2 linked regions of the Homo sapiens genome follow. The protein of the gene in region 1 purifies or fractionates together with the protein of each later gene. This does not show direct contact. Each region holds a gene or a part of one and is shown on either strand. Other genes may lie near its edges.

Region 1 (15,819 bases):
TGAAACCAACATGATTATCAAAGTAGTGGTGGCCAGCCCTTGACTGTTGACTGTCATACACTGTGCTGTGTGTTTGATATACATTTTCTGAGATAATTATCACAGATCACTAGAAAGTAAGGCCCAAGAGAGCAGACTTTTTTTCCGTTTCATTCACCATCGTATCCACAATGCCTGGAAATTAGTAGGTACCCAAAAAATACTGGATGAGTGTGAGAATAAAGGAAGATATGAGTGGACAGATGTTTTCCAACATGGCTATTGCGGCGAGCTCTCAGAGATGTTCCTTCTCTCATTTCCATCTATCTCATGGGCCTGTCTTGGGCTCCTGTGGCTTTGTACTAGCTGGTAACATTTTTATCTCCCCATTCTCTCCTCATCCTCCTTGACTTTTTTTTTAAGGCAAGGTCTCACTCTGTCATCCAGGCTGGAGTGCAGTGGTGCAATCATAGCTCACTGTAGCCTCAACCTCCTGGGAACAGGCCACCCTCTCGCTTCAGCCTCCTGAGTAGCATATGCCACCATGCCCAGCTAATCTTTTTTTTTTTTTTTTTTTTTTAGACAGGGTCTCACTATGTTAGGCTGGTCTCAAACTCCTGACCTCAAGTGATCCCCTCACCTTGGCCTCTGAAAGTGCTGGGATTCCAGGCATGAGCCATTATGCCTGGCCCAATATTCTTGTTTGTTTATTCTTCCACATGAAAGGCACATTCATTTAGTCATATCCCAAAATTACCACTACAAGAATTTCTTCTTAAAATAAGAAAATATTATAAAGAATTGAAATCAACACAATTCATCATTCCAACAGTAATCTGACTTGCCTTTTATGTCACTGGGCAAAATAAAATTTATTATGGATATCGGCTTCATGTTTGTCACTATGATATCCTTTGACATTTTAGGCGAGGCAGGGAGGTAGCTTCTCCTGTGTAAAGAGTTCACTTTTGCCACCATTTATTTACGTGGGTTTTTTGCTGGTGTTCACAGAATATGCTGGCACCTTCTGGTTGTTCTTCAGTTGTTTCTTTTGTGAAGAAAGGAGTATAAAGATATGGTGATGTCTGGCATGGTGGCTCACGCCTGTAATCCCAGCACTTTGGGAAGCCAAGGTGGGCGGATCACGAGGTCAGGAGTTTAAGACCAACCTGGCCAACATGGTGAAACCCCATGTCTACTAAAAATTTAAAAAATTAACTGGGCGTGGTGGCGCACACCTGTAGTCCCAGCTACTCAGGAGGCTGAGGTAGGAGAATTGCTTGAACCCGGGAGGGGAGGTTGCAGTGAGCCGAGGTCGCGCCATTGCATTCCAGCCTGGGTGACAGAGCGAGACTCCGTCTCAAAGAAAAAAAAAAGACATGTTGAGTTCAGGTCATAGGACAGGCTGCCAAGAGCTGTTTCTCCATGTACCCTGCAAATGACTTGGGCTTCTGTGACGTTTTAAGCTCCACCCACTTCTGGGGACAGCAGAGTGACAGAAGTCCCCCTCCCAGACAGGGGAGAAGGATGGCCTCAGCACACAGCCAGTCAATTTCCTGTTCTTCAGCGCAGGTTTCATTGCCCTTTTATTCAAACTTCAAAAAGTAATCTTGGCCAGGCGCGGTGGCTCACGCCTGTAATCCCAGCACTTTGGGAGGCCAAGGCAGGTGGATCACAAGGTCAAGAAATCAAGACCATCCTGGCCAACATGGTGAAACCCATCTCTACTAAAAATAAAAAAATATTTAAAAATTTAAAAAATTAGCTGGGCTTGGTGGTGTGTGCCTGTAGTCCCAGCTACTCGGGAGGCTGAGGCAGGAGGATCGCTTGAACCCAGGGGGTGGAGGTTGCAGTGAGCCAAGATCGTGTCACTGCACTCCAGCCTGGCGACAGAGCAAGACTCCTCTCAAAAAAAAAAAAGTAATCTTTAAGGCTGTGCACGGTAGCTCATGCCCATAAATCCCAGAACTTTGGGCAACAGAGTGAGACCCCGTCAAAAAAAAAAAAAGTGGCTTCTGGAACTAGGTTGCTCTGCCACTTCCATCATTGTGTCCTGCTGGTTCTTTTTTTTTTTTTTTTTTTTTTTTGAGATGGAGTTTTGCTTTTGTTGCCCAGGCTGGAATGCAATGGCATGATCTTGGCTCACTGCAACCTCCGCCTCCTGGGTTCAAGCGATTCTCCTGCCTCAGCCTCCCGAGTAGCTGGAACTACAGATGTGCGCCACCATGCCCACCTAATTTTTTGTAGTTTTAGTAGAGACGGGGTTTCTCCATGTTGGTCAGGCTGGTCTCTAACTCCCGACCTCAGGTGATCCGCCCGCCTCAGCCTCCCAAAGTGCTGGGATCACAGGCGTGAGCCACCGCGCCTGGCCTATGTGTCCTGCTTCTTTATGTGTAAAATAAGGATAATAATAATATCTAATTCCTAGTGTTGTAATGAGGATTGTGTCAGTAACAGAACAGTGCCTAGAACAGAGTAAGTAAGCACTGCATGATGTTAACTATTAATAGTATTATCAAAATCATGGACCAGCCTATGCCGAACCAGAGAGAAGAGAGGTCCAGGAGCCCTCAGTTATCCCATCCACCATAACCAGGCACCTGCCCAGTAAGTGAGGAGGGTAAGGAAGAGGAGAAAAGTCAAGACCATGGTGGAAACACCCCAGGGCTCTGCTTCCTGAAGTCCCATGGCGGTGTCTGGGCACCTGAGTTTCTCTCATGGCCTCTGCACACTCCTTAGAGGAGGCCTCTGCAGGCAAGTCTGCTGCTACTCTTTAGGGGAGTCAGTTTCTCCCCAGCCATGGGGAAAGAAGAACGGCCCCTCTCGCTGAGTCGATCCTAGGCCACCATCTCCCTGGTCAGAGTGGAGCTGGGGTTGGGGGGAGTCCCAATAGGGAGACACCTCCAAGTTGAAGGGTTCCTCTGAATCTGGGTCATTTGTCAACCTAAGGGTCAGTCAGAAAGCCTGACCCAAAGCTCTGGCAGAGGGTCAGCTGCAGGGCTCTCCGGGAAGAAAGCACAAGGCAACTGCAGTTTCTCTGCTCTGACCAAGAACACTTCCCGACGCCCTGGCCTTCAGAGCTGACCACTCAGCGCCTCCTGCTGGCCCAGGCCTCAGGTCCTTCCTAGGGCTCCATACAATGAACTCTGGAACTGGATTGATGGAATGAGCTGAGGGCCTCTGGGTTTCTCTTTCAGCCAACTGGTAGCACCCAACAGAGCCAATCTTAGCCCTGGCTGGTATGTGGAGAACACACTGCAGGGCGGCAAGGTGGAGACCTGGAGGGAGAGGAGGAGCTCGGATCAGGGTGGTGGCAGGGAGGCAGGGAGACTTGAGGGGATCTCCGATATACAGTCTTCGATTTAGGACAATTTCCACCTACAGGATTTTTCAACTACAAAACCAGTATGCATTCTGCACGCTTCTTGACTCATGATGGGGCTACATCTGGGTAAGCCCATAGTAAGTTGAAAATACCATAAGTCAAAAACGTACTTTCGAGTCACAATATTTTCAACTTAAGATGGGTTTATGTGGATGTAGTTCCATCTGAAGTTGAGGAGCATCTGTATTGTAAAGACAGTAATGGCAGGATTTGTGGGTGGTCCAGGATGCTCCCAGGCTCTGTCCCTGAGCAACCAGGAAGATGGAGTTGCCATTTTGGAGACGAAGAACCTACCAAGGTGTGGGTTTGGAATCAGGAGTTCTGCTTTGAAAGTGAAGTCTCACCGTGACTCATAATTTGTGACATTTCCAAACCTTAATTTGCCTATAGAACTTTTCTTTTTCCAGAGCCTCTATCCAGACTACTTATTATTTATCAAAATAAATTAGATAAATAAATAACTTAATTTTAGAATTCATCTTCCAGATATACTTTACACAGATCATTCCAATAAAGGCAGGTTGGGGCCCGGGACAGTGGCTCACCCCTGTAATCCCAGCACTTTGGGAGGCCGAGGCAGGAGGATCACTTGAGGCCAGGAGTTTGAGACCAATCTGGGCAACATAGTGAGACCCTCCCCCTAGACCCCATCTCTACCAAAAAAAAAAAAATTAATTGGCTGGGCTTGGTGGCTGGCACCTGTGGTCCCAGCTACTGGGGAGGCTGAGGTGAGAGCATCGCCTGACGCCAGGAGATCGAGGCTGCAGTGAGCTGTGATCTCGCTACTGCGCTCCAGCCTGGGTGACAGAGTGAAACCCTGTCTTTAAAAAAAAAAAAAAAAAAACAGCAGGTTGGGAAAATCTACAAGGAACAAGGGCAATGTGTGTATGTTATTTAAAATAAGATCATAAAACGTATTTTAAACCTTCCATAATCCTAATGCTCTAACAAATAAATTAGTTGGCCGAGCGTGAAGAGTCACACCTGTAATCCCAGCATTTTGGGAGGCCGAGGGAGGCGGACCACCTAAGGTCAGGAGTTCAAGACTAGCCTGGTTAACACGGTGAAACCCCCGTCTCTACTAAAAATATAGAAATCTTTGGGAGGCCAAGGCGGGCGGATCACGAGGTCAGGAGATCGAGACCATCCTGGCTAACACGGTGAAGCCCCGTCTCTACTAAAAAAATACAAAAAATTAGCCCGCGTGGTGGCAAGCGCCTATAGTCCCAGCTACTTGGGAGGCTGAGGCGAGATCATCGCTTGAACCCGGGAGGCGGAGGTTGCAGTGAGCCGAGATTGCGCCACTGCACTTCAGCCTGGGCAACAGAGTGAGACTCCGCCTCAAAAAAAAAAAAAAAAATATATATATATATGTATACACACACATATATATACATACACATATAAATTAGCTGGGCGTGGTGGCGCACGCCTGTAATCCCAGCTATTTAGGAGGCTGAGGCAGGCGAATTGCTTGAACCTGGGAGGCGGAGGTTTCAGTGAGCCGAGATCACACCACTGCACTCCAGCCTGGGCGACAAGAGTAAAACTCTGTCTCAAAATAAATAAATAAATAAATAAATAAATAACTTAATTTTAGAATTCATCTTCCAAATATATTTTACACAGATCATTCATTCATTCCACAGATTTTTTTACAGCATCGAAAAGAAGCCTGCTATACACACATCGGTACATTTTTATTATTTTAATTATTAACAGCATAAATGTTTTCATGCCAGTTTTCATAATCATTGTAATGATAATTGTCATGATTGTCTCTCCGTGGCGGGGAAGAATCTGGGTGCAGGGCTTGGGGATCCCTGCGGTCCGCGGCGTGCAAGTGCCACTCCCTGGGGTGCTCCCGGAATCCGCGAGCCACGGAACCTAAGAACGCCGACCCGCCGGAGCCGGAGGGCAGACGCTGGCACACCGGACGCGGGGACGCCAGAAGCGGCTGGACCCGGAAATAGGGGTTGTCGGTAGCCGCCCCGGGAACAAGGACCGGAGCTGGATCCGCGGTGCGGCTGTGGGTGAGCGGCGGGCTGCGGGACCCTCGCCCGGCGGCTCAGAAAGGCGGGAAGCGCACGCATTTTTCTGGCTTGTTTCCTGAACGTTGGCCGGCGGAGGACCCGCGAGCTCGGGAGAGCGCCCGGGCCGGGCTCTGCATTCTTGTTGCCTCTTCCCTGGCGGGGGTGATACTCTCCCGCGGGGCTTGCTGTGGGGGTTCAGGGAGGTGGAGATGGGCCCGCCATGTGCCTGCAGGGAGCAGGCGCTGTGGTTAATACTTTTCTTCTTCGAACCCTCCCACAGCTCTTTAGGGTGAGATCTGCTGTACCAGTCTCACAGGTAGGGAAACTGAGGCTCAGGGAAGCTGTGCAGCCACCGGGGCCCAGATCGGTGCGGTACACACCCAGGCAGCTTCCACTCGCCGCCCCCTAGGCCCTGGCTGGGTTTTGAGGGCACCCAGGTTCTCTGACCTGTTATCTGTAAATGAAGTAGGGTACTTTTGTGAACAAATTAGCTGGAATCCAGGGGCAATAATTTCTCGCAGAAGTGAAAGGTAAGATGTTCCTAGTCTTGCCTTTTTATCTTCTCACCTTTTGAAACAGGACCTGAGAGGCCAGCCTAACTTGGGCTTGATGGCCAGCCAGTCCTGGGATTCTTTTGCCAAGGTCACCTGACACTAGTGTGACTTGTTCTGAACCTCCATTTACTCACAGTTTTAAAAAATTACAACACCTGCCTTATGGGGTTGCTGGCGAGATTGAATAGTGTTGATAGCTATGGTGTGCCTACTACAAAGGAGGAGCTTAAGAAATGGTTGTTTCCCTCTTTTCCTGATTCTAGAAGCATTTGGTAAAGTTACTGAGGTGGTAAATCCTAGGAATTTTAATGCTATTCAGACCACTGCTAGGCCTACTCCCAGGCCACATCTGCTTGTTTCTTTTTTTGTTTGTTTTGTTGCAGGCAGAGTCTCACTCTGTCACCCAGGCTGGAGTGCAGTGGCGCGATCTCAGCTCACTGCAACCTCCGCCCCCGGGTTCAAGTGATTCTCCTGCCTCAGCCTCCTGAGTAGCTGGGATTACAGGCATGCGCCACCACGCCCAGCTAATTTTTGTATTTTTAGTAGAGACCAGGCTTCACCATGTTGGCCAGGCTGGTCTTGAACTGCTGACCTCGGGTGATCCACCTGCCTCAGCCTCGCAAAGTATTTGCTCACTGTCTATTTACCGTGAGAATGCACAAAGCAAAACCCGTGTTCTCCTGCTGCTTACTTACTTTCTAGGAGCTGTAAGACAAGAGCTGAATAAGTAGATGGAAGCTGTACCAAGTGTAGTGATGAGTGCTACAAGGAAGCAAAGCTGGGCTGCTGTTCCATCAGAGTGCTCACAGAGGCAGGACAGGATCAGGCTTGGGGCACGGGTTCTAGAACAACCAAGTCCAGCCACTGGAGCTCTGGTCTCTCTGACCCCACAGTCCCAGTCTAGGCCAATAAAATGGCAGCACCTATTAGCATCCCTGCCTAGGATGCTGGCAGGACTGCCTGGTCCCTGGTGTGTCCTCATTATGTCATACATAATTGCTGACTACTCTGTGGCATAGACATGAGAAAATCTGAGGAAACATTTTAGGACAAAATTTCCTACTTTGGAAGAGATGGGAAACTCAGACCCTCACAGAACAATGCCCCTCTGCTGCGAGTTTTCCCTTTTGGCCTCTGGCTTCCCAGGGTGAGAGAAGGGGAGTCCCTAAATCTCTTTTAAACCTCACTTCTGGGCCTCTGATTTTGGTAGAATCAAAACTTCCCCAGAACGGAGAGCAGAGGCCAGTCATAATCACCTTGGTTGTTCATTCATTCCCTCAGCAGGCATTTAGTGCATGCTGGGTGCCAGAAATATGGCAATGAACCTGACAATTGTGGGAGAGACAGACTGCTGACGCCAGATGCAGTCTTCAGGAGGGGAGGGGCAGGGGTCAGAGCAAGTAGACTAAGGGGGAAAAGTGGCCTAGGCCGAAGCCTGCTGGCGCACAGGGAGGAAAGGTGGGTGCGCAGCAGAGCCTTGGGAGATGCAGCTGGAGCTGTCATGGGCCAGAGAGCTCATCTGCAGACAGTGTCGTCATTCCACAAGGCCTCGGCTCTTTCACTGTGGGATGGTTGTACATTTAAGGGGAACATCCACTTACTTATTTTGAGGAAAAAAGCAAATTGTCATTTTATTTGGGACAGCTTTCTGGTCAAGATTACTGATTTCACTGTAGTCCTGTGATCTCTTAAGTGGGGAACAAGGTTGACAGCCCAAGGCCGACCTTGGACCTCTTCCCCTGCACAGCATGATGAGCAGCAGAAGCCCCTTTAGTGAGGGAGTTCCTTTGGCATCCTTTCTGAACAATGCCCTTTACAACCCTCCTTTATTTTTCTGGTTTTATTGTAAAGTCCCTTGTCTTAGTTCTTGTCCCTCAGTCACCTGTGTCCAGGCGCTAAATGTAAAAGGTGCAAAAGGGAATGTGGTGAGGAGGCACCCCCAGCCCTGACCTCCAGGCCCTAACACCCACTCCAGGTGATTGCTTGGACTGTTTGTTTTGCGTTCCATCCAGACATATCGCCTCTTCATAATCAAGTGCACACGTGTGCACACATATGTGTGATCACAGATGGCAGTGCTCTCTACACACCGTTACATGCCCAGCTTTCTTAGCATGATTTATTTCAGTGATCTGATCCACGTTAGTATGTACCAAGCAGATGCTTTCCTTTGTAATGCTGCCAGGTGCTCTACTGTAGAGAATGCCATGCTTTTTTTTTTTTTTTTTTTTTTTGGAGATGGAGTCTCACTCTGTCGCCCAGGCTGGAGTGCAGTGGCGCAATCTCGGCTCACTGCAAGCTCCGCTTCCCGGGTTCACACCATTCTCCTGCCTCAGCCTCCCGAGTAGCTGGGACTACAGGCGCCTGCCACCATGCCCAGCTAATTTTTAGTATTTTTAGTAGAGACGGGGTTTCACCACGTTAGTCAGGATGGTCTTGATCTCCTGACCTCGTGATCTGCCCACCTTGGCCTCCCAAAGTGCTGGGATTACAGGCGTGAGCCACCGCGCCCGGCCAGAGAATGCCATGCTTTTATTTAACCACCTCCCTGTTGACAGACACCAGCTTGTTTCTAACCTTTTATCATGATTGATAATGCTGCAGAGAACTCCCCAGTGATGTGGTTCATCACAGGCACCACCGTGCCCAGCCTGAGGCCACTCCAGCGCTGCCCTGTCCTACCTCCTGGGGACTCAGAGTCCACATGGACAGTCTTGTCAGGGCCCACCACTGACTCCTGTGAGTCTCCCCAGGTGACTTCACTCTCTACCTGTCTCACAGCCCTTGCCCTCCCTGGGTCAGCATGCCACCACCCAGGCCCCTCTGTAATTCCTGTTTGAGCCTCCCACCCTCTGGGAGTTGCTTCTTTGACTCCCACTTCCTGCTCTTGTGCCTCACTTCCTGGACCCCACAGAGCACACCCTCTGTGGACCCTCCCCAACCCTCACCTCCCTCTTCACCCAACTCAGAGTCAGGTTCTGTCCTTGTAATCTCTCCCCTCGAACCCTGACCCACTCCCTCTCCCTCCTACTCACCTGGACTCTCCCATCTAACTAAATCCAGTGCTTCCTCTGCTGTGGGCCTGCCCGCAGCATCACCACCTGTCCTCCCTCAGTGGACAGCCGTACCATGCCTCCTCCTCCACCAAGAGAAGTGCAGCCTTGTGGCAGCTCTGCATCGCCTGGATGCTGACCGGCTGCCTCTCTTGCCCCTCACCCTCCCAAGGCCATCACTGCAGCAGTTCCTTCCCCTCCGGCACGCAGCTTCTCTTTTCCTTCTCGCCAGAGCAGTCCCATCAGCGGAGAACATGCTGGCACAGCCACCATCCTGAAACAAGAGGGGACAGTGCACCAGCCTTCTCCCATCTCCCAGGTTTTGTTGAGCTCACCCCATGCAGCTTTCATCTGTCACTCACCACATGGCCCCATCAGGATTACCCAGGGCTCTGTTTGCCAGACCCTACAGTCAGGTCTCAGCTGCCATCTCGCCTGGCCTGTCAGTGTCCCCCACATGGTGATAACTGCCCTGAAGTGCTCTTTCCTGTGGCTTTCAGGACCTTACCCCTCCTGACTCACCCTGCTAGCTCCTCATCTCCCGACCCCCAGCCTGGGCTCCTTCCACATTGCTGCCACCTCCTCCAGGCCACCCAGGCTGTCCAATGGGCAGGTCCCGTTTAACACACCTGAAGTCCCACATCAGACTGCCAGTCCCTTCCTGTCATGCCTAAGCCAAAGCCATGGGTTGTTCCTTTTGCTTTTTTGTAAAGATGAGGTCTCATTGTGTTAATCAGGCTCTTCTCAAACTCCTGGCCTCAAGTGGTCCTCTTGCCTTCGCCTCCCAAAGCACTAGGATTATAGGTGTGAGCCCATGGCAGGTGTGAGCCCATGCCCAGCTCTGCCTCAGGTCATTCTTGACTCACCTTCCCCTCCCCCTCCCATGTCCCGCCATCCCAGGTCTGCCTGGATTCTGACTTCCCTCGCATCCTCCACCACTGCTACCCAGGGCCCATTCATCCTCTTCTATGTGGCAGCCAGAGAGGTCCCTTTAACACTTGAAGTCAGATTATCCCACACCTATGCAAACCCTCTGCTGCCTCCCAGCACCCCTAGAGCAGACCCACATTCTACACCCCTGCTCCCTCCCTCAGCCCCATGAGCCCCCCTGCCCAGCCATATCCTCCCCAAGGACCTCACCTTCCCTGCTCCTTCTGCCTGGACTCTTCTCCCAGGTGTCACCCAGCCCTGCCCTGTCCCTCCCCTGCTCCCATACTACAGCATGAGTTCTGGGAGGGCAGGACCTGGTGTTGCTTTGTGCTGTATTCCCTGCATCCTGGACTAGGCCAAGCATGCAGTAGGTACTCAATAAATAACTGGACTATTAAGTTCATTCCAAGGAGTGGAATTGCTGGGATGTGCACTCGGACTTTGAGAGGGATCCCTGAATTGCTGCACATAGAGGTTGTTCCCATTTAACTTCCCCATGCCCTCATCTGCTGTGTGTGCAACGACTTTGAGTCTCTCCCTATGTGATAAGCACAAGCTCATTGTAGTTCTGAGTTTCTTCTGCGAGTGTTGTTGGACATGATGTGATACCACAAAGGTACTTACGTGGTGGTTTTCCCTTTTTTTTTTTTTTTTTTTTTTGTTTGAGATGGAGTCTCACTCTGTTGTACAAGCTGGAGTGCAATAGCATGATCTCGGCTCACTGCAACCTCCACTTCCTGAGTTCGAGCGATTCTCATGCCTCAGCCTCCCAAGCAGCTGGGATTATAGGCACCCACCACCACACCCAGCTAATTTTTGTATTTTTATTAGAGATGGGGTTTTGCCATGTTGGCCAGGCTGGTCTTGAACTCCTGACCTCAAGTGGTCCACCCACCTCAGCCTCCCAAAGTGCTGGGATACAGGCGTGAGCCACTGTGCCCATCTAGGTGGTAGTTTTTCTTTATGCTGAGATTATTTTATTTTGCTTTTACTTTTTTTGAGACAGGGTCTTGCTGTCACCTAGGCTGGAGTGAAGTGGCTGTTCTATCCACAGGTGCAGTCATGGCACACAACAGCCTTGAATTCCTGGCCTCAAGCAAGCGATCCTCTTGCCTCAGCCTCCTGAGTGGCTGACACTATAGGCATGTGCTACCACACCTGGCTTGTGAGATTTATTTTAAAAGCACATGTTTTTCCTAATATTTTCTGGTTTCATTGTTTCTACTCAAACCTTTGCTAGATCTGGAATCGGTTTTAGTGGGATTTAGGAAGCAGGAGTCTAACTTTATTTTTTTTCACAGCAGATTTCCCAGTTGTCTCAATACGAGTCTTTTTTTTCTTTTTTAATACGGTGCTATGTTTATAAACATCAGTGCTACATTTATAATGACTGAAAAAACAAAAAGGGTTCATGTGGTTTTCTTTTACTTGGCTAGCAGGTATTGAATGTCATGTGTCAGGCACAGAAAGCTGTTGCAAAGACCAACAGTGATTCAGACACAAAGCCCATCGTGTCCTATTTTGGGGGTGAAGTAGTCGCTGATGATGGCATGATGTGAGTGGGTTGGAATGGAGACCTAGCCCAAGAGCTGTGGGCACAGGAGGGCTGACTTACCCTGCCAGTGGTGTTGGGAGACTTGAGCTGGGCCTGTGGGCCATCCAGCTGCATCCTCCAGGCCTGGCGGAGCTTTCTCTCAGGCAGGGAAGCGCAGGCACAGAGGCTTCAAGTGCGTGTTTGCTTCGATGATGATATTTGATTTAATTTGGCCAGAGCATGACCTGCAAAGCAAAAGGTGGAGTGGAATAGGTGGGAGATAGATGTGACAGAGTCCTGATGTCTGCTTGGGGCTGGACCGACTAGCCAGAGGGTCTCAGGCCCATCATGGATCAGAAGGACCTGGGGGGCCCAGCCTGGGCATCTGCATTTTGTAAAGTGTCCTGGGGCGTCCAAGTGCTTTGCTGAGCGGGAGGTGCTGCTCTCGGCCACGATAGTTCCTCTTTCCAGGTGAGTCCACCTGTAGGTGGAAGAGCCAGTCCAGAGAGGAGGGCCAGGCATCCACCTGGCCTGACCCATCACTCCAGATCCCCAGGCCCCAGCATCTTCCTAGCATGGATTTAGGAATAAAATTGACCTGAGATCACTGGGGCCACTTCACCTTCCCCCAAATGGAGCCACATTCCCAGGATCATCTCAGCCACTTCAGCTGACCTGGTAGTTTTTTCTTGTTTTTAATCTCAGATGTCTTCAAGTTTCCCTAATTCCCTAATTTTTCTTCTTCTTGCCTCAGGTTGGTCTTGTTTTTTCTTTGTTAAAGTGATTTTCCTTGTAGTGGTGTAGGTTCTATTGACAGCATTGCTATCCTGAGTGTCTTTTCTTCTCTTTAGGAGTCAGCATTGGTAATAGTGCTGTGCTGCGGAAGAGTGGAGTCTAAACTTTTTCATTGCCAGTGCCCCGAAACTGGAGTGTGAAGGACCGAGACAAAATGAAGACTGTGCTCATGGTTGCTGAAAAGCCGTCCTTGGCACAGTCAATTGCCAAAATCCTCTCTAGAGGTAGGAGAGACCAGCCCTGCTTTGGTCTGTAAGCACGGTCGTTTATGTGTTACAGGACATTTTTTCCTAATGTGATTCCACCCTGGCTGGGGTAGATTTGGTTCGGGTCGGCAGGTGGTAATGAAGCATCTCAGTATGTCACAGTGGGGTGCATTTGCTTCCACTCCTGGCAATGTGCCAAAGCTGGGGTTCCCATAAGGCACAAGGCACAATTTACAATGAAATTGAAGGACAGTCATTATCCATATGCTGGGCCTGGTGGGGCTATTAGGTACAGGTAGTAGAAACCAGCCCTGGAAGGAAGGAGACGCAGCCAGGACTACACCCCAGTCAAGGTCTGATGAGGCTATGCCCCAGGCATTGTCACCCCTGGATACTCCCACTGTCCTGTGGACCTCACGTCACTCCAGAGTAGCCAATGGACTGAGCTATGGCCACAGGCACTACTGAGACACCAGGGAGCTCGAGAGGGAATGTCTGCCACTCACCCCCAACTCTGGCCACTGGGGTGGTTGGTAGGGTGCTGTTTCCCCCTATCTTTGAATTCCCTCCAAATAGGAAGAGTTTTAGATGCTGGGTACCCAGAAATGACAGGCACCTACCTGGCCTCCCCTTGGTCCAGCAGTTGAGAGGGGAAGAGACCCTCGTTCAGCTGAGAAGGCATGGTCCGCAGGGGACGGTGCCCCAAAAGTGGTGCCCGGTGCCCAGAAGCTGAGAAAGTACAGCTGAGTATGGTCAGTGGAGAGGGTGAGAATTCGATAATTAGAAGGTCCCTGGTAACCGAGAGTAGATCTGGAGTCTGTTTTAGTAAACGATGAATAACGTTTCAATGAAGTGAGGCAAAAATGGAATTGAAGAGTGAAAACATAAATACAGAGAAAGAGCCCACCCCTGCCTGCTCCTGGCTCCCGGCAGCCTGGGGCTCTGCATCGAGAGTGCTCTGTGCTAGGTTGTTGGCAGATGCTGTTTTCCCTGAGCGCCGTCCCACCTCTCAGTGCCCAACTACCCGCACCAGTCTGCGGAATGTCGTCACTCACCACTCTGGGGAAGGAGGACTCTGGCCCTCTGGGAGGTGGCATCCGGGCTGGGGTCTCCACAGGGTCTTCAGCTCAGCTGAAGCAGCCAGTCACTTTGTGCTTCCTCATCCCCAGGGAGCCTGTCCTCACACAAAGGGCTGAACGGGGCCTGCTCAGTCCACGAGTACACTGGGACCTTTGCTGGCCAGCCAGTGCGCTTCAAGATGACGTCTGTCTGTGGTCACGTGATGACCCTGGATTTCCTGGGTAAGCCCCTCTACCCTCCATCCTACTGAAGGGAGTTCTGCATGGCACTGGCCAGGGTCCAGTTGAAGCCAGGAGATGCCTCTAGGCAGGGAAGTTTGTCCCAACTCCATGAGTCATAAGGCCAGCAGATCATGAAGTAGCAATGAGAGGGTCCCTGGTGCGGTGCCCAGAACCCAGGCTCTGGAACTCAGCCCTGGGTCCCCATCATAGCGGCACCCCTTAGTCGCTGCATTCCCTGTGTGCCTTCCTATGTAGACAAAGTGGCAGCACCTATCTTAGGAAGGGCTTGACCTGTGCAGGCATTTAAGAGAAGGCTGCTGCTGTTGCCAAGTTGACCGTCATCTGTCGGTCATTTGGTGGCTGTCGTTGTCATTCCTATATTGTTACTGTTATCAATTACCTTGGAAGCGCCAGTATTAGTGACCTGCTGGGTGTAGGTTTGGGGCCATGTGGTTGGCAAGAGTCTGATCCAGGCTTTTCCCCCTGCTCTGCCGGCTCACTGGCTGGGGATGTGGGCAATGACGGCCTCTGAGTTTACACTTCTCATAGTGAAATGGGTCTCACAGCAATGCCATCTGCTTCCCAAGGCTAAGGATTCAGTGTGACAGTGAGGGCAAAGCACTCAGCACAGGGCCCGACACACAGCAAAGCCTCAGCCCTTGTTCTTGCTGCTCATTGATGACAGTGATGACAATGATGGTGACTGAGTTGTGTGGCTGAGCATTTGGACCCCAAGTTTTATCTCCAACTGGCAGGTGGGGAGCCGGGATTTGAATTTGGCTCTGTCTGACCCCATTCTCCCAGGATGCAAGAAATGGGGCCTGGGGAGGATCGCTTGAGCCCAGGAGTTCAAGACTAGTCTGGACAACATAGTGAGACCCCTGTCTCTACAAAAAAAAAAAAAAACAAAATTCTTTTTAAATCAGCTGGCATGGTGGTGCGCACCTGTAGTCTTGGGAGGCTGAGGTGGGAAGATGGACTGAGGCTGGGAGGTCGAGACTGCAGTTAGCCGTGATCGTATCACTGTACTTCATCCTGGGTGATAGAGCGAGACCCCTGTCTCAGAAAAAAAAAGAAATGGGGCCTAAAAGAAAGCCAGACAGCTGAGCATGCAAGAACCGGGTCTCTGTAGATGAGTAGGTGAATGTGCTGGGCATGAGGCTCAAAAAGATGGTCCTTTAACAGGAACGACTGCACACATGTGTGCCCCCACAGAGTGCTGGGTGGAAGGACAAAGTTCCAGAAACTCAGGTTGGAAGTGTCAATGAAGGCACCATTGTGGGGTCCAGTGCTCAGGCAAAGAGACCCAGCCCAGGAATGGTGCTCCCAGCCACAGGGAAAGTCCCGGAAGTGAGGCCAGAGTGGCAGCCCCCCGAGAGCTTGCTTGGCTCCTGTGGTTGGCCGGGGTGTGGTGGGTCCGCTCAGCAGCCGAGCAGAAAGGAGGCTGGATGGGAGGGGGTTACCAAAGGCCTGAACCCACATCCTGGCTCTGCCTCTGATCATCAGGATGACCCTGGGCAAATTGTTCTCCAAGCTTTCCCCTCCTCATTTGTGGGATGAGGCCAACATCCTCCTGGGGTTATGATGGTCTCGGAGGCTGAGCTCCTGTGACTCAATGTCACTGTGACTGGTTTGTAGGAAAATACAACAAATGGGACAAAGTGGACCCCGCAGAACTGTTCAGCCAAGCTCCCACGGAGAAGAAAGAAGCTAACCCCAAGCTGAACATGGTGAAGTTCCTGCAGGTGCGTGGGGCTGGCCTGGGCATGAGCACACCGGGGCTCCCCACCCTCCACAGCTGCCATGTCTTTGCCCACCCTTGCTTGAGTCCTAATCCCCCTTGGACAGGGGGGCCTTTGCTAGCTTTTTCTGTGAGTGCCCCCTGCTGGCCCACGAGGCACCTGCAGGCACCCCCAACACACAAGGCAGTTGCCATTGCCAACCCTCAGTCCTGGAGAGCAGGCCTTCTGCTTTTAAAATAGCTTGTTTGGTCGGGGGGTTTTTCTCCTTAATTTTAAAACAAATGCATACAGATTATGGAAAATTAGA
Region 2 (15,819 bases), about 21 Mb from region 1:
TACTTCTCAGGGTGCTGAGAGGGCTGAGTGAGAACATGGATGGGGATGGGCCTTGGAAACTAAAGTTACTCCTCAGATGAGTGGGATTAGATTTGGTGGATGTTTATTTTATTTGACTGGCATTGTTGGGAAGTTATTGTCCATGTTGGTGTCTCAAGACACGTGGTCTAGGAAGCAAAACACTCTTAACTAGGAATAAAACTTGCCAGCCCCTCTCTCTTAATTTTGCTTAAAATGCAAAGTTAAAAGCCATCATGAAACCAGGAAAGGAGTCATCATGTAGGCATAATCGTTTATTCAATCACAGGCAAGGAGCCGCTTTCTGATTCTCCAGGGCCTCCTCTGTCCCCAGTGTTACCACAGTTCCGCTTTCATAGACTGCTGTAGATACCCAGATCCACTTAATATTGATTGCAATTTATATTTACAGGCTTAATGCCAGACCGGGAGTTGGAGGTGTCCGATCTCGAGTTGGGATCCAGCAAGGCCTTCTCAGCCAGTCAACACGCACAGCCACCTTCCAGCAGAGATTTGATGCCCGGCAGAAGATTGGCCTCTCAGATGCCCGGCTCAAACTGGGAGTCAAGGATGCCCGGGAGAAGCTTTTGCAGAAAGATGCCCGATTTCGAATCAAAGGGAAAGTGCAGGATGCCAGAGAGATGTTGAACTCTCGCAAGCAGCAGACCACGGTGCCCCAGAAGCCCCGCCAGGTTGCTGATGCCCGGGAGAAGATCAGCTTGAAGAGGAGTTCCCCTGCTGCCTTCATAAACCCACCCATTGGGACAGTGACCCCTGCTCTGAAGCTCACCAAAACCATCCAGGTGAGTTGTGGCTTTTGTCATGAATTCCCAGAAAGCTAGTAACAAAGGTAGATTTAGAGGCAAGGTGCCAGGAGTGACTGGGCAAAAATACTATCCTCTCAAGTGTTGGCATAATACAGACTTTGCTCCTTACAGAGGCTTTAAGTACGTTATAGCCAAGGAACTATACAAGGAAGGAAAGGTATTATCTCAGTTCTAAAAAAAAAGAAAAAGGAGGCCCATAGAAATTTGGTGACTTTCCCAGGTGAGATACTGGTGGAAGAAAGAGAGAGGAAAGGACAAAAGATTTATTGAGCACATGCTATGTGGCAGGCCCTTAATATCTGTGACCTTACAGTCCTCACTCCACCCCCAGGCCCAGTGGGATTTGGCCCCTAGTCCAAGGCCCTGGCCACCCTTCACAGCTGCCACCACAGAGGGAAAGGAAACAATGTCATTTAACCTTCATAGCAGCTTTGGTAATAGGAACAGCAGCGGCCACAGCAAACATTTACTGAGCCAAGTCCATTAAGCCCTACATGTGCGTTACCGGCATGGTCTCTGGATTGATGATTCTTCTGTTACTTCCTACTGTGGAGGATAAGGCCCTCTGTAGTGCCTTTTACCAAAGACCAAAGCTGCATGCCCACCATGTATCAAGTTCAGTAACCCCCTTCTTCTAGAGAATGCATGTGGACCCTGTGGGGTGGATTCTGACCACTGAGTGTTTCCAGGTTCCACAGCAGAAAGCCATGGCACCACTTCATCCCCATCCTGCCGGAATGAGAATCAATGTTGTCAATAACCACCAGGCCAAACAGGTAGAGTGAGTGAGTGAGAGAGAGAGAGAGAATCTGTGTGTACATAGCGAACATGTAGGTGTGCACGTGTTTTGATGAGGCCTACTTGGGTGGATGGACTGAGGCTTGCTCAGTTGGTAGTTCCCAGTTGGTAGTATTGGAGGCAGGGTTACAGCGAACTTTTTGCAATTTGAGTTTAAAGAAGAAATTTTTTTTATTTTTTTATTTTTTGAGACGGAGTCTCGCTCTGTCGCTAGGCTGGAGTGCAGTGGCGTAATCTCGGCTCACTGCAACCTCTGCCTCCCGGGTTCAAGTGATTCTCCTGCCTCAGCCTCCTGAGTATCTGGGACTACAGGCGCGTACCACCACACCCAGCTAATTTTTGTATTTTTAGTAGAGATGGGGTTTCACCATGTTGGCTAGGATGGTCTCAATTTCTTGACCTTGTGATCCCCCCGCCTCAGCCTCCCAAAGTGCTGGGATTACAGGCGTGAGCCACCACACCCAGCCAAGAAGAAACTTCTTAATAGAGGAAGGGAGGCATAGGGGGCAGAGAGGCTAAAAAAAGTTTTGTTTGTTTTTTTTAATTTTTTTACGCTTTTTTTTTTTTTGTCTTTTGTTTTGTTTTTTTTTCCTTTTTCTGGAGAACGGGGTCTCGCTATATTGCCCAGGCAGGTCTCGAACTCCTGGGCTCAAGCTATCCTCCCGCCTCTTAGCCTCCCTGAGAGCTGGGATTACAGGTGTGAGCCACCGCGCCCGGCCTAATTTTTTTAAATAAAAGTTCTATGTGCTTAATATAGAAAACTTGCCAAAAAGTCCCTCAAGTTCCTATTCTCCAAAGCCAGTCACTGTTGAAATTTTGCCATAGTTCCTTACATGTACGCTTCTTTTTTTTTGATACAGGGTTTCACTCTGTCCCCCAGGCTGGAGTGCAGTGGTGCAGTCATGGCTCACTGCAGCCTTGAGTTTCTGGGCTCAAATGATCCTCCCACCTCAGCCTCCTGAGTAGCTGGGATCACAGGTGCATACCACCACATCTGGCTAATTTTTGTAGAGATGGAGTCTTGTCATGTTGCCCAGGCTGGTCTCGAACTCCTGGGTTCAATCGATCCTCCTGCCTCTGCCTCCCAAGTAGCTGGGATTACAAGCATGAGTCACCGCGCCTGGCTAATTTTGTATTTTTAGTAGAGACGGTGTTTCTCCATGTTGGTCAGGCTGATCTCGAACTCCTGACCTCAGGTAATTCGCCCACCTTGGCCTCCCAAAGTGCTGGGATTACAGGCGTGAGCCACTGTGCCCAGCCCCAGTCTGTTTTTTACTTAACTCATAGTTGTGGTTGTGGTTATATATTCTTTTTTTTTTTTTGAGACCGAGTCTCGCTCTGTCACTCAGACTGGAGTGCAGTGGCACGATCTCGGCTCACTGCAAGCTCCGCCTCCCGGGTTCACACCATTCTCCTGCCTCAGCCTCCCGAGTAGCTGGGACTACAGGCGCATGCCACCATGCCCGGCTCATTGTTTGTATTTTTCGTAGAGACGGGGTTTCACCATGTTAGCCAGGATGATCTCGATCTCCTGACCTCGTGATCCGCCCTCCTCGGCCTCCCAAAGTGCTGGGATGACAGGCTTGAGCCACTGAGCCCAGCCATGGTTATATTCTTATCCAATTTTGTATCATTCTTTTTTCACTTTGTAACTCAAGCATTTCTCTGTGACATTTCATATTTACTGTACATGTTTTAGTAACTGCAAAATCTATATAGTTGGCATTCCAGTTTTATTTAAACCATTTTCCTGTCATTTTCACTGTTAGAAATCCTTCTGCTGTGAACATCTTTGTAAATAAAGCTCTTTCTAGGGTTTGGATTTATTTCTGTAGGTCATATTAACAAGGATGGACTTTCCAAGCCAAAGGATATAAAGAAACATTTTAGGGACTCTTGGTACATACTGCCCACTGGGAAAAAGGGACTTCTGATGTATCTGGAAGTTGTAGGACTTTCACTGGGTCCTTGCTGACAGGGAGTTAGCCTGTGAAGACTTGGGCCCCAGTCTTTCCAGGCACCGTCACCCCTGTGCCCACTTCTCCTTGGTCCCTTTGTTTCTCCAGCAGCCATTTCCTTGCCATGCCTGTTCTAGATGTCTGTTGAGGGCCCAGATGCCACATTTGCTTATATTTCTTTATGTTATATTCTCAGAATTTATATGACCTGGATGAAGATGATGATGGTATAGCTTCCGTTCCTACTAAACAGATGAAGTTTGCAGCCTCAGGCGGCTTTCTCCACCACATGGTATGGCATTTCATGTTTTCTTACACTGCGTGTCTGATCAGGCAGGTGGGAGAGGTCGTGTTGAATAGAACCTGTTGTTTTTTTTGTTTTGAGACGACATCTCGCTCTTCTCCCCCAGGCTGCTGGAGTGCAATGGCGCAATCTTGGCTCACTGCAACCTCCGTCTCCTGGGTTCAAGCTATTATCCTGCCTCAGCCTCCCTAGTAGCTGGGATTACAGGCGCCTGCCGCCACGCCCAGCTAATTTTTGTATTTTTAGTAGAGATGAGGTTTCACCATGTTGGCCAGGCTGGTCTCAAACTCCTGACCTCAGGTGATCCGCACGCCTCGGCCTCCCAAGGTGCTGGGATTACAGGCGTAAGCCACTGCGCCCGGCGTGAATAGAGCCTTTCAATGCAGAAATATTTCTTTGTTTGGGCCGTAAGATTTTCAGAGCTGGAACTAGTCCATTCCCTTAGTTTTATAAACGCTGAGACACTGGGGTGCCTTCTGATTTGTTCAAGGTCCCACAGCAAGTGAAGTACAGGGCTGCAGCTCCTAGGTGCTGTGTTTGAGACACTATAGGGAAAGTGTGAGTGATCCCACAGTGGGGAGTCTGTGTTCTTTCCTTGGTGGCTGGCCATTCTGCATGCTTCGTAACCCTTTGTGGTCAGCAGCTCTGGCGCTGCTCTTGGAGTCTGGATTCCGTTGGTTAACATTAGCAGGAATACATCTCACCTGATCTGTGGGCTCTACCAGGTGCAGCCTGCATGCAGGGAAAGCTTGCTAGGCTAGAGTGTTGGTCAGACATCATGCAGAGAAGGAAAGAAAACAACATCTGGGATCATCAGGGAGGTCCATGCTGCTCAGCTCAGTGGTACAGCCAAGTGTCAGACAGGGAGGCCAGTGGGCTGCCTAGGTGGGTCCTTGTGGCAGCCACCTCTTTTGTTTTTCCTTCAGACGCTCAAAGACTCAGTTTTGGTTACTGTCCTGAGTATGTGGACCAGCCTCCTGGTTAGTAATTAAGAGAAATATGGGCCAGGTGCGGTGGCTCACGCCTGTAATCTCAACACTTTGGGAGGCAGAGGCGGGCAGATCACAAGGTCAGGAGATGGAAACCATCCTGGCTAGCACGGTGAAACCACGTCTCTACTAAAAAATACAAAAAAGTTCGGGCGTGGTGGCTCACGCCTGTAATCCCAGCACTTTCGGAGGCCGAGGTGGGTGGATCACGAAGTCAGGAGATCGAGACCATCCTGGCAAACATGGTGAAACCCCGTCTCTACTAAAAATACCAAAAAATTAGCCAGGCGTGGTGGTGTGCGCCTGTAGTCCCAGCTACTCTAGAGGCTGAGGCAGGAGAATGGCACGAACCCAGGAGGTGGAGCTTGCAGTGAGCCAAGAGGCGCCACTGCACTCCAGCCTGGGCGACAGAGCGAGACTCTGTCTCAAAAAAAAAAAAAAAAAAAATATCCGGGGTGTGGTGGCGGGCACCTGCAGTCCCAGCTACTCGGGAGGCTGAGGCAGGAGAATGGTGTGAACCTGGGAGGCAGAGCTTACAGTGAGCCGAGATTGTGCCACTGCACTCCAGCCTGGGCGACAGAGTGAGACTCTGTCTCAAAAAAAAAAGAAACATGAAGCTGGCTCGGCGTGGTGGCTCACGCCTGTAATCCCAGCACTTTGGGAGGCTGAGGTGGGCAGATTACCTGAGGTCAGGAGTTGGAGACCAGCTTGGCAACATGGTGAAATCCCGTCTCTACTAAAAATAAAAAATTAGCTGGGCATGATGGCGCGTGCCTGTAATCCCAGCTGCTCGGGAGGCTGAGGCAGGAGAATTGTTTGAACCCCGAGGTGGAGGTTGCAGTGAGCCAAGATTGCGCCACTGCACTCCAGCCTGGGTGACAGGGCGAGACTCCGTCTCAAAAAAAAAAAAAAAAAAGAGGTCGTGAAGCTGAATGATGCCAGTTTGTTTCTTTACAAAGGGACCAGGCCTTTCCAGTAATTAGACTGCTCAAGTCTGCTATCAAGGGAACTATCAGCTTGCTCAGTGAGTCTCTATCCCTATTTGATACCCTAATTGAATAAATGCCATATTTATACTCATGCGTCTTGTACCCTGTGAGATGGGTACTGTTGATTACCCTCGTTGATGGATGAGGGACAGGCATGGAGAGGTGAAATAAGCCTGTTCAACATCACCCAGCTGATGAGAAGCAGTGGATCTAGGAATGGAGCCCGAGCAGTCTCGCTCTCAGGGCCCTGTGTGGAGTCACTGTGCTGTCCCAGCTCTGGAGACGCAGAATTCCACATGAGGAATGTGGAATTCAGCATGGGGATGACGCTGCTTCACCCAGACTTGGAGGAGCGTGGTGAATTGCCCGTGCCCATGCTCTGATGTGCCTCTCTGGCCGCTGCGTTCCTCCTTTCTCCCTGCCCTGGGTCAGTGCCTGTAAACACTGCCCTAAATCAGCAGGGCCCCCGTCACTTCTGCTTTATGCACCTTTTTCCTCAGACACATTAATACAGGGGAGTTTTGTTTCCAAGGGACCACATCCAGATGGAGGGGCTGTTTTTGGTGATCTGCACTGCCAAATGCCCGAGTGTCCCTGACAGTCGGAGCTGATGAGGCCAAGGCTGTGTGTGGTTCCTCTGGATGGCCAGAAGAGGAACCAAAACACTGAATTCTGGGCCTTCTTAAGAGTGGTGATCAGCACATTGTGATAGAAGCATATCTGGGAATGAACTTGGCCTCAAGCTTTTGGCCTTTTAATTTTTTTTTTTGTAAGCAAAAGCAGCTTTATTAAGAAAACAAAGGAATAAAAGAATGGCTACTCCACAGGCAGAGCAGCTCTTTTACATTTTTTATAGAGATGAGGTCTCACTGTGTTGCCCAGGTTGGTCTTGAACTCCTGGCCTCAAGCAGTCCTCTCACCTCAGCCTCCCAAAGTGCTGGGATGGCAGATGTGATCCACTATGCCTGGCCAAGCTTTTGGCCTTCTGACCAGCCTCATATTGTAGAATTTTTAGAAAGTCTAAGTGGTGTGGGTGAGCCTGTGGCTCCTGGGTAATTTTCCAGGTCAGGGCTGTATGGAAGCTTCCTGCCAAGAGCTTCTAGCACTGTGGGGAGTGGCTTCTGTGAGTGCGCGTTCAGGCTGTGTGTTTTTCTCTCCCCCTGCCCCTTCCCTATGGGATGTCACTGGCAGCCGGCAGCCTTTTTGGCTCCAGACCTCTAATAGAATTAGAGAGCTGGGAGGCATCGAGGGTTCATGCTCTCAGCAAGTTGTCAACCTCTTGGGGCTTCTTCAGAACATTGCAGGTCTGGCTTCTCAGATTCTTTTCTGTCTCTTCGTTTAGGCTGGGCTAAGCAGTTCCAAGCTTTCCATGTCCAAGGCCCTCCCTCTCACCAAAGTGGTTCAGAATGATGCATACACAGCTCCTGCTCTCCCTTCCTCTATTCGAACAAAAGCCTTGACCAACATGTCCCGGACACTGGTGAACAAGGAAGAACCCCCCAAAGAGCTGCCAGCTGCTGAGGTGAGGTGATGGTGGTGACTGCAGCAGTTGGGGTCAGGAGGGCTGTATGCTTATATGTACCTCATTGTGTTCCCCACAACGCCTTTGTGAGGTGGGCATTGCCACCCCCATTCTACAGATGAGCAAACCAAGACCTAGGGACTCTTACCCTCAAAGACCTTGCAGGCTAGTGGGGACGGCAGACCTGCTGAGAGATTGCGGTATCTGGTGATATGTTAGACTCTCTCAGAAGAAAGCTATTAGGAGGGCTGAGGACAGATTATCTCATTCCAGTTGGGAAGTCTGGGAAAAAGGGCTCTTTTAGCTGAGTGGGTCTGGAAGCATGAGTAGCCTTCCAGGTAGAGGCTCAGGGCCTGAGAGGCTTGCGTATTTGGGAGATGGGAGAGGGTCCATGCTTTTAGCATAGAGTGATGGGGGGTGTAGTGGACACTGAAGTTCAGGGGGCCCATTTGTGGTAACTCTCCATGGAGCTTTCCTCTGGGCCTTCCTAGTCACGTGCCTGGAGGAATTTCTGTTGTGGGAATGCTTATCAGCCATCTGGCTTCTGGTAATGCTCTTGTCTGTGTGGCAGCCTGTTCTCAGCCCATTGGAAGGCACCAAGATGACTGTGAATAATCTGCACCCTCGAGTCACTGAGGAGGACATTGTTGTAAGTACTGTGACCTACCAAACATTTAAATCTCAAACTGCCTCTGTGGCAAAGGTCTCTTAAGACCCACCCTCAGGTTTGATGACTGCTAGGACTCACCAGACTCAGCATATAGTCACGCTCAGGGCTGAGACTAATGACAGCAAAAGGATGCAGAGCAAATGGCTCATGGGGTGAAGTCGGGGGGAAACGAGGCACAAGCCTCCAGAGGCCCCTCCCAGCAGAGTCGCACAGGATGCTGGGTGCAACTCGCAGCAAGTTGTGACAATACATGTGACACCAGGGAAGCTCATTAAAGACTCAGTACCCAAAGGTTTTACTGGGGGCTGGTCACTTCGGCATTCTCTGTGTAGCATGTACTAAAATTCCAGACTCCCAGAGGGAAAGCAGCTGTTGAGCAGAAACCATGTTGTTTGCACAGTCCAGGCACAGTGAACTGTGGGGTGGCAGGAGCCCTCCTGAGATCCGAGTTCTCAGATGCCAGCCAAGGGCCACCCCTGGAATCGGACCTTTCAAACAATAGCAGTCAGCCCAGCTGCTTCACTCTTCTGCACAGCTTCTAGCCAAGGCCAGGTGCCTGGCCTGAATCTCAGAGTCAGGGGATATCTATGCTATAATGGGTCCTAAATGGGATCCTTTAGTCCCACTGGGCAGTATCCAATAGTTGTGTTTTCCTGTGTCCTTTGGAGGTATTACAAGATGATTCCAAAGTGAAAGAAGTGAGATGGATTGGTGGTATCCACCTTCCTGGTCCATCCCGTCCCACCCATGGCAGTCATGGGCAAAACCTGTCAAATGTCTGTGAGCGGGGTTCTGGATGCAGCTAGGACTTCTTTTCAACATCATTTTCATTCAGGCACCCAAAAGAGCCATTAGTTTAGAAATCCAGGCATCCTTTGAACTGTCAGATCACAAAATGAATACGTTTGGAGAATCCAGCCTCTCCCTGCAGTTAAGTCCCAGACTAACAGACTGCACTGGTCACTACATTTGTTAAATCTTTTTGTTTTGTTTTGTTTTGTTTTTGAGATGGAGTCTCACTCTGTCACCCAAGCTAGAGTGTAATGGTGTGATCTCGGTTCACTGCAACCTCTGCCTCCCAGGCTCTAGCAATTCTCCTGCCTCAGCCTCCCGAGTAGCTGGGATTAGAGGCGCCTGCCACTACGCCTGGCTAATTTTTGTATTTTCAGTAGAGGCAGGGTTTCACCATGTTGGCCAGGCTGGTCTCGAACTCGTGACCTCAAATGATCCACCCACCTCGATTTGTTTTTTTTAAAGATGGAGTCTTGCTCTGTCGCCCAGGCTGGAGTGCCAGTAGTGCGATCTTGGCTCACTGCAACTTCCGCCTCCTGGGTTCAAGTGATTCTTATGCCTCAGCCTCCCTGGTAGCTGGGATTATAGGCGTGTGCCACCACACCCGGCTAATTTTTGTATTTTTCAGTAGAGACGAGGTTTCACCATGTTGGCCGTGTTGGTCTTGAACTCCTGACCTCATGATCTGCCTGTCTTGGCCTCCCAAAGTGCTGGTATTACAGGTGTGAGCCACTGTGCCCAGCTGAGGTTAAATCTTAATTGTGAAACACACGCATGCCGTGAGATGGGTCACTCGTATCTCCTTCTCCTTTAGCAGGGACAGTACTGTGAATGGTGCACGTGAGGATGGAAATTGTAGCCTATTTTGTGTAATACTTGACAAGTCATTAAGAATTAAAGCTGATTGCCGGGTGCAGTGGCTCACGCCTGTAATCCCAGCACTTTGGGAGGCCAAGGTTGGTGGATCACCTGAGGTCAGGAGTTCGAGACCAGCCTGGCCAACATGGCAAAACCCTGTCTCTACTAAAAACAGAAAAATTCGCCAGGCGTGGTGGCACGTGCCTGTAGTCCCAGCTACTCAGGAGGCTAAGGCAGGAGAATCACTTAGAACCTGGGAGGTGAAAGTTGCAGTGAGCCGAGGTCACGCCATTGCACTCCAGCCTGGGTGACAGAGTGAGACTCTCTCAAAAAAAGAAAAGAATTAAAGCTGTTAAGGAGCGTAATAACAACTGCCATTTACTGAGTACTTGCTATGTGCCAGTCACTTTAGGCAGACTCTTGGAAGATACATAATGGTGGAAAACTAAACACCAGTCATGATCAGTGCTCAGGGGAAATTGCTAGTAATAATCACCCTCGCTTCTCTTCTACCCAAATAGGCAATGTTAAAAGGACAATGGTAATAAAATTGGAATTACACCTACTATTTATAGTTGGCCCTCCATATCTGTCGGTTCTGCATCTGTGGATTTAGCCAACCACTGAATGAAAATACTCAAATTTTTAAAAATAACAGTATGATGAGAAATAATACAAATTTTAGAAATACAGTATAACTATTTATATAGCATTTACATTGTATTTGGTATTATAAGTAATCTAGAGATGATTTAAAGTATAGTGGATGATGTGCATAGGTTATGTGTAAATACTACAGCATTTTATAGCAGGGACTTGAGCATCTACAGATTTTAGTATCTGCGAGCGGTTCTGGAACCAGTCTCCTGCAGGTGCAGAGGGGCATCTTGTTTTGATATTTACCATTAAAAACAAACCATGTCAAGGACCTTTTCATAAACCTTCTTTTGGCCCTCACAGCAACCTTGTGAAGGCAGTTGCAGGTGAAGAAATGGCGTGAGTGCTAGTCAGCCTCTGTCCATCTTCACATTTTGCTCCCTCTCTGGCCTTAGTCGTCTTGTCTGTAAAATGAGGTGGAGATCGGACTCAATGATGTGTGCAAAGCACTGCCTTAAAAATTATCTCAGTTGAGCTTTCCAGTAAAGCTGGGAAGTAAGCTAGTCCTTTTTATTTTCAGAGGAGGAAACAGGCTCAGAGAAGTTAAGTAATTTGCTAGACGTCTCATAGCAGATAGAAAGCAGAGCCTGGGGGATCAAACTCAGGTCTGACTTAGAGTGACCAACTGTCCCTGTTTTGCTGGGGACTCTCCTGGTTTCATCACTCAAAGTCTCATGTCCAGGGAAACCCTTCAGTCCAGCCAAACCAGGACTCTGGGTAGAACTCCAGAATTTGTATTTGTAACAGATTCTCAGGTGACATATTAGCAGCTGTCTTTCTTTGTATACATGTATTCTAATGACAGGGCTCTTTGCGAAAATTTTCATAACTGTTTTATCCCTGTTGAGGTGGGCACTGAAGACTTTGGTGGTGGCTTGCTGGGAGATCCCAGGTGATCCAAGGCTTGTAAACCCAGCCCCTTTCCCACTGCTGACCTCATCTGGTGCTGTGTTGAAGCCTGTGGATGTCTCCAGAGCACCACCTCGCGTGGAGCCTCCCCGCAGTCTCAGGCGCAGGGCGCATTTAGCTGCAGCGGAACCACCACACCCCAGGGCCTTCAGAGTGTGTGAGCGGCAGGTGCTGAGAAATCCTTCCCCAATCCCAACCCCTCTTGTTGTGTGCAGGAGCTTTTCTGTGTGTGTGGGGCCCTCAAGCGAGCTCGACTGGTCCATCCTGGGGTAGCGGAGGTGGTGTTTGTGAAAAAGGACGATGCCATCACCGCATATAAGAAGTACAACAACCGGTGTCTGGACGGTAAGTTAGGGAGAAAGCAGTCCCCTGACCCTCCCACTCATCTCTACTTGCTGTCAGGTAGCAGGCCTTCCAGGGGAAGTCTCTGTGAGATGGGTGGAACCCATCTCTGGGGCCTCGTCTGCACCAGGAACTGCCGTGCAGTCTCTGAGTAGTCCTGAGCTGTGGGTTACACAGGGCCCTGGATTTTCACCCAGCCCTTAAGCTTTTGAGCCCAGCAAAAAGGAAAACAGCATTTCTCCATGGATGGTTCTCTTAAGGGGTCTTGCCAGGGGAGCCAAGAGGCACAGCTGTTGCCTCCCAGATGTTGATCTGTTTAGTGCTAGGGCAGAAGTTCCTCCCAGCCCTGGAGTTTTGTCTGAATGTTGACACCTGGGTGAGAGCTGCTCCTGGTGGGTAAACAACAGACTTTATTGACTTGAGGTTCATATTTTTCATCTCCAGACAGCCTGTAGAGAAGAATTCTGTCTGCCATGCTCCTTTTCCACTCATTTGTTCTTTCAGTATGTATTGAGTGCCTACTGTGGACCAAGGCCCTGTGCTAGAAGTGGAGAAGCAGAGACTAATAAAACAATACAACAATAAAAAAAATTACAAATAAAAGACCTGGAGCCTTGGCTAAATCTTGGCACCTGGGTGAACTCCCCTGGGTGAGTCAGTGGAGTTCTGATTTGCATTTCCCCATGGCTAATGATGTTGAGCACCTTTTCATGTGCTTATTGGCCATTTGTATGTCATTAAAGAAATTAATTTTGTTTTGAATTTCTGTTCTTTTTTTGTTTTTTCTTATTTTTTGTCATATGTTTGGATGTGGAAAGATACTTATTTTCCTTTTTCTTTCTTTTTTTTATTTTTATTTTTTATTATTTTTTTATTTTTTTATTTTTTTTGAGTTTCTCTCTGTTGCCCAGGCTGGGGTGCAGTGGCGTGATCTCAGCTCACTGCAACCTCCGCCTCCCCGGTTCAAGCGGCTTTCCTGCCTCAGCCTCCCAAGTAGCTGGGACTACAGGTGCACGCCACCAAGCCCAGCTAATTTTTTTGTATTTTTAGTAGAGATAGGGTTTCACCATGTTGGCCGGGCTGGTCTCAAACTCCTGACCTCAGGTGATCTGCCCACCTCGGCCTCTCAAAAGTGCTAGGATTATAGGCATGAGCCACTGTGCCCAGCTATCTTTGGAGAAATGCCTGTACAGAATCTTTGTCTGCTTTTTAAATACTGAGTTGTAGAAGTACTTTACATATTCTTAAGTCCCTTATCAGATAAGTGATTTACCAATATTTTCTCCCATTCTGTAGGTTTATTTCTGCTTTTTAATGTATTCATATGCAGTATAAGGACTTTTTGGTTAACAGCAGACCACATATATGACAGTGGGCCCATAACATTATAATACCATATTTTTACTGTATTTTTTCTACGTTTAGATGTACAAATACAGTTGCCTACTCTACTCAGTAGAGTAACATGCTGTACAGCCGGGTGTGGTGGCTGAAGCCTGTAATTCCAGCACTTTGGGAGGCTGAGGCAGGAGGATCGCTTGAGCCTAGAAACTTGAGACCAACCTGTGCAACGTGGCAAGACCCTGTCTCAAAAAATAAATTAGCTGGGCGCGTGGTGGCGTGTGCCTGTAGTCCCAGATGCTGGGGAGGCTGAGGTGGGAGGATCACTTGAGCCTGGGAAGTTGAGGCTGTAGTGAGCTGTGATCGTGCCACTGCACTCTGGAATGTATTCCCATGGTTAAATGATACATGACTGTATGTGCATTTACAGCTATATATTCTAAGCATGGCTGTAACTGCATTCCGTGTTTTGGTATATCATGCCTTCATTTTCATTCATCTTGAATTATTTTCTAATCTCCCTTGTGATTTCTCCTTTGACCCATTGGTTATTTAGGATTGTTTCAATTTCCATATATTCATGAATTTTCCAGATTTTCTTTTCTTCTATGAGTGTTTAAGGAAAATATGTATTTTCTTGTTGTTAGGTGGAATGTTCTGTACATGTCTATTATGTCTTGTTGCTTTGTAATGTTTAAGTGCGTTTCATTGTTGATCTGCTTGGTTCTATCTAGTATTGAAAGTGAAATACTGAGGTTCTGTTTTTTTTTTTTGATACGGAGTCTCCCTCTGTCACCCAGGCTGGAGTGCAGTGGCATGATCTCAGCTCACTGCAACCTCTGCCTCCCGGGTTCAAGCAATTCTCCTGCCTCAGCCTCCCAAGTAGCTGGGATTACAGGTGCCCACTGTCACGCCCAGCTAATATTTGTATTTTTCGTAGAGATGGGGTTTCACTGTGTCAGCCAGGATGGTCTTGATTTCCTGACCTCATGTTGGCCAGGCTGGTTTTGAAGTCCTGACCTCAAGTGATCCGTCCACCTGGGCTTCCCAAAGTGCTGGGATTAGAGGTGTGAGCCACTGCACCCGGCGAGATCTTTATTACTGTTGGTCTGTTCCTTTCACTTCTGTGTATTTTTATTTTATATATTTGAGGTTCTGTTGTTACTTGCATATATGTTTGATTGTTTTCTTCCTGATGAATTGACCCTTCAGTCAAATTTAAATCTCTCTTTACCTCTAGTCACTTTTTTTGTTGTTTTAAAGTATATTTCATTTTATATTACTAATAGCTAATAAGCTAATAAGTAAAAGACCAGCTTTCTTAGGGTTGCTATTTGAGTGATATATCTTTGTTCACTTTTTTTTTTTTTTTTTGAGACGGAGTCTCGCTCTGTCGCCCAGGCTGGAATGCAGTGGCATGATCTTGGCTCACTGCAACGTCTTCCTCCCAGGTTCAAGCGATTTTTGTGCCTCAGCCTCCTGAGTGGCTGAGACTACAGGTGTGCACCACCACACTCAGCTAATTTTTAGTATTTTTAGTAGAAATGGGGTTTCTGCCATGTTGGCCAGGCTGCTGTCAAACTCCTGGCTTCAAGTGATCTGCCCATCTCAGCCTTGCAAAGTGCTGGGATTACAGGCATGAGCCACCAAGCCTGGCCCACTCTTACTTTCAATCTTTTTCTCTCATCAACTGTAAAAATGTGTTTCCTAGGCTGGGCACAATGGCTCACTCCTGTAATCCGCCAGGCGGATCACCTGATTGGGAGTTCGAGACCAGCTTGACCAATATGAGGAAACCCCATCTCTACTAAAAATACAAAATTAGCCAGGTGTGGTGGTACATGCCTGTAATCCCAGTTACTCCGGAGGCTGAGGCAGGATAATCGCTTGAACCCAGGAGGCGGAGGTTGCCGTGAGCCGAGATCGCACCATTGCCCTCCAGCCTGGGCAATAAGAGCGAAACTCCATCTCAAAAAAAAAAAAAAAGAAAGAAAGAAAAATGTGTCACCTATAGAGAGTGTATAGTTAGATCTTACTGGTTTTTTTTTTATTTGAATTCAATCTGACAATCTGTCTTTGGATTGGATTATTTAATCCATTCATATTTAATATTGATAATTAGGTTTATTTCTTCCATTTTACTTTTTTTTTTTTTTTTTTGAGGTGGAGTCTCGCTCTGTTGCCCAGGCTGGAGTGCAGTGGCATGTGGTCTCTGCTCACTGCAAGCTCTACCTCCCAGGTTCACGCCATTCTCCTGCTTCAGCCTCCTGAGTAGCTGGGACTACAGGCGCCCGCCACCACACCCAGCTAATTTTTTGTATTTTTAGCAGGGACGGGGTTTCACCATGTTAGCCAGGATGGTCTCGATCTCCTGACTTCGTGATCCACCCGCCTCAGCCTCTCAAAGTGCTGGGATTACAGGCGTGAGCCACCGCGCCCGGCCCCATTTTACTTTTTTGTTCCTCTTCAGTGGCTTTTCTTTCACATTTTTTCCCCAATATTTTAATTCCTTTAATGATGTATTCACTAACTTAACTCGAGTAAGATATGGAAATGTTACTCCCACATGGCCCTGTTCCTTCTTCCTCTTTTTTGTGCTATTACCGTTACACATGTTATGCTTTGTATACAGTGGGAGTGTGGTCTTCCTAGTGCTTCATCCTTTGTAGACAGAGTAGAAGCCTGTACATAATGCTTTTGATCATCTTTTCACTGAATTTGATAGCATAAACCTTTTCCCTTACTACTTGGATGGCTTCACATTGAGTCTCGTTTCTCCCTCACTTCCCACTCATCTCTTCCTGTATGAAGCAAGGTTTGTGGCCACTTTGCCTCTTGGTGCTCC

What was found.
Region 2: the proteins of TOP3B (region 1) and POLDIP3 purify together in Homo sapiens (affinity purification with mass spectrometry; 2 studies listed by BioGRID and IntAct, with this or other methods). This does not show direct contact.

What each region holds. Positions count from the first base shown.
Region 1 is NC_000022.11:21,972,308-21,988,126, reverse strand, and holds the start of TOP3B (DNA topoisomerase 3-beta-1), read left to right. Parts: upstream 1-5,339; 5' UTR 5,340-5,397; exon of another isoform or gene 5,398-5,713; intron 5,714-11,939; exon of another isoform or gene 11,940-12,146; intron 12,147-12,319; 5' UTR 12,320-12,417; coding exon 12,418-12,487; intron 12,488-13,638; coding exon 13,639-13,770; intron 13,771-15,408; coding exon 15,409-15,515; intron 15,516-15,819. UniProt on the Homo sapiens protein: Releases the supercoiling and torsional tension of DNA introduced during the DNA replication and transcription by transiently cleaving and rejoining one strand of the DNA duplex.
Region 2 is NC_000022.11:42,587,772-42,603,590, reverse strand, and holds part of POLDIP3 (polymerase delta-interacting protein 3), read left to right. Parts: intron 1-430; coding exon 431-821; intron 822-1,483; coding exon of another isoform or gene 1,484-1,534; coding exon 1,535-1,621; intron 1,622-3,797; coding exon 3,798-3,893; intron 3,894-7,225; coding exon 7,226-7,405; intron 7,406-7,976; coding exon 7,977-8,054; intron 8,055-11,506; coding exon 11,507-11,636; intron 11,637-15,819. UniProt on the Homo sapiens protein: Is involved in regulation of translation. Is preferentially associated with CBC-bound spliced mRNA-protein complexes during the pioneer round of mRNA translation. Contributes to enhanced translational efficiency of spliced over nonspliced mRNAs.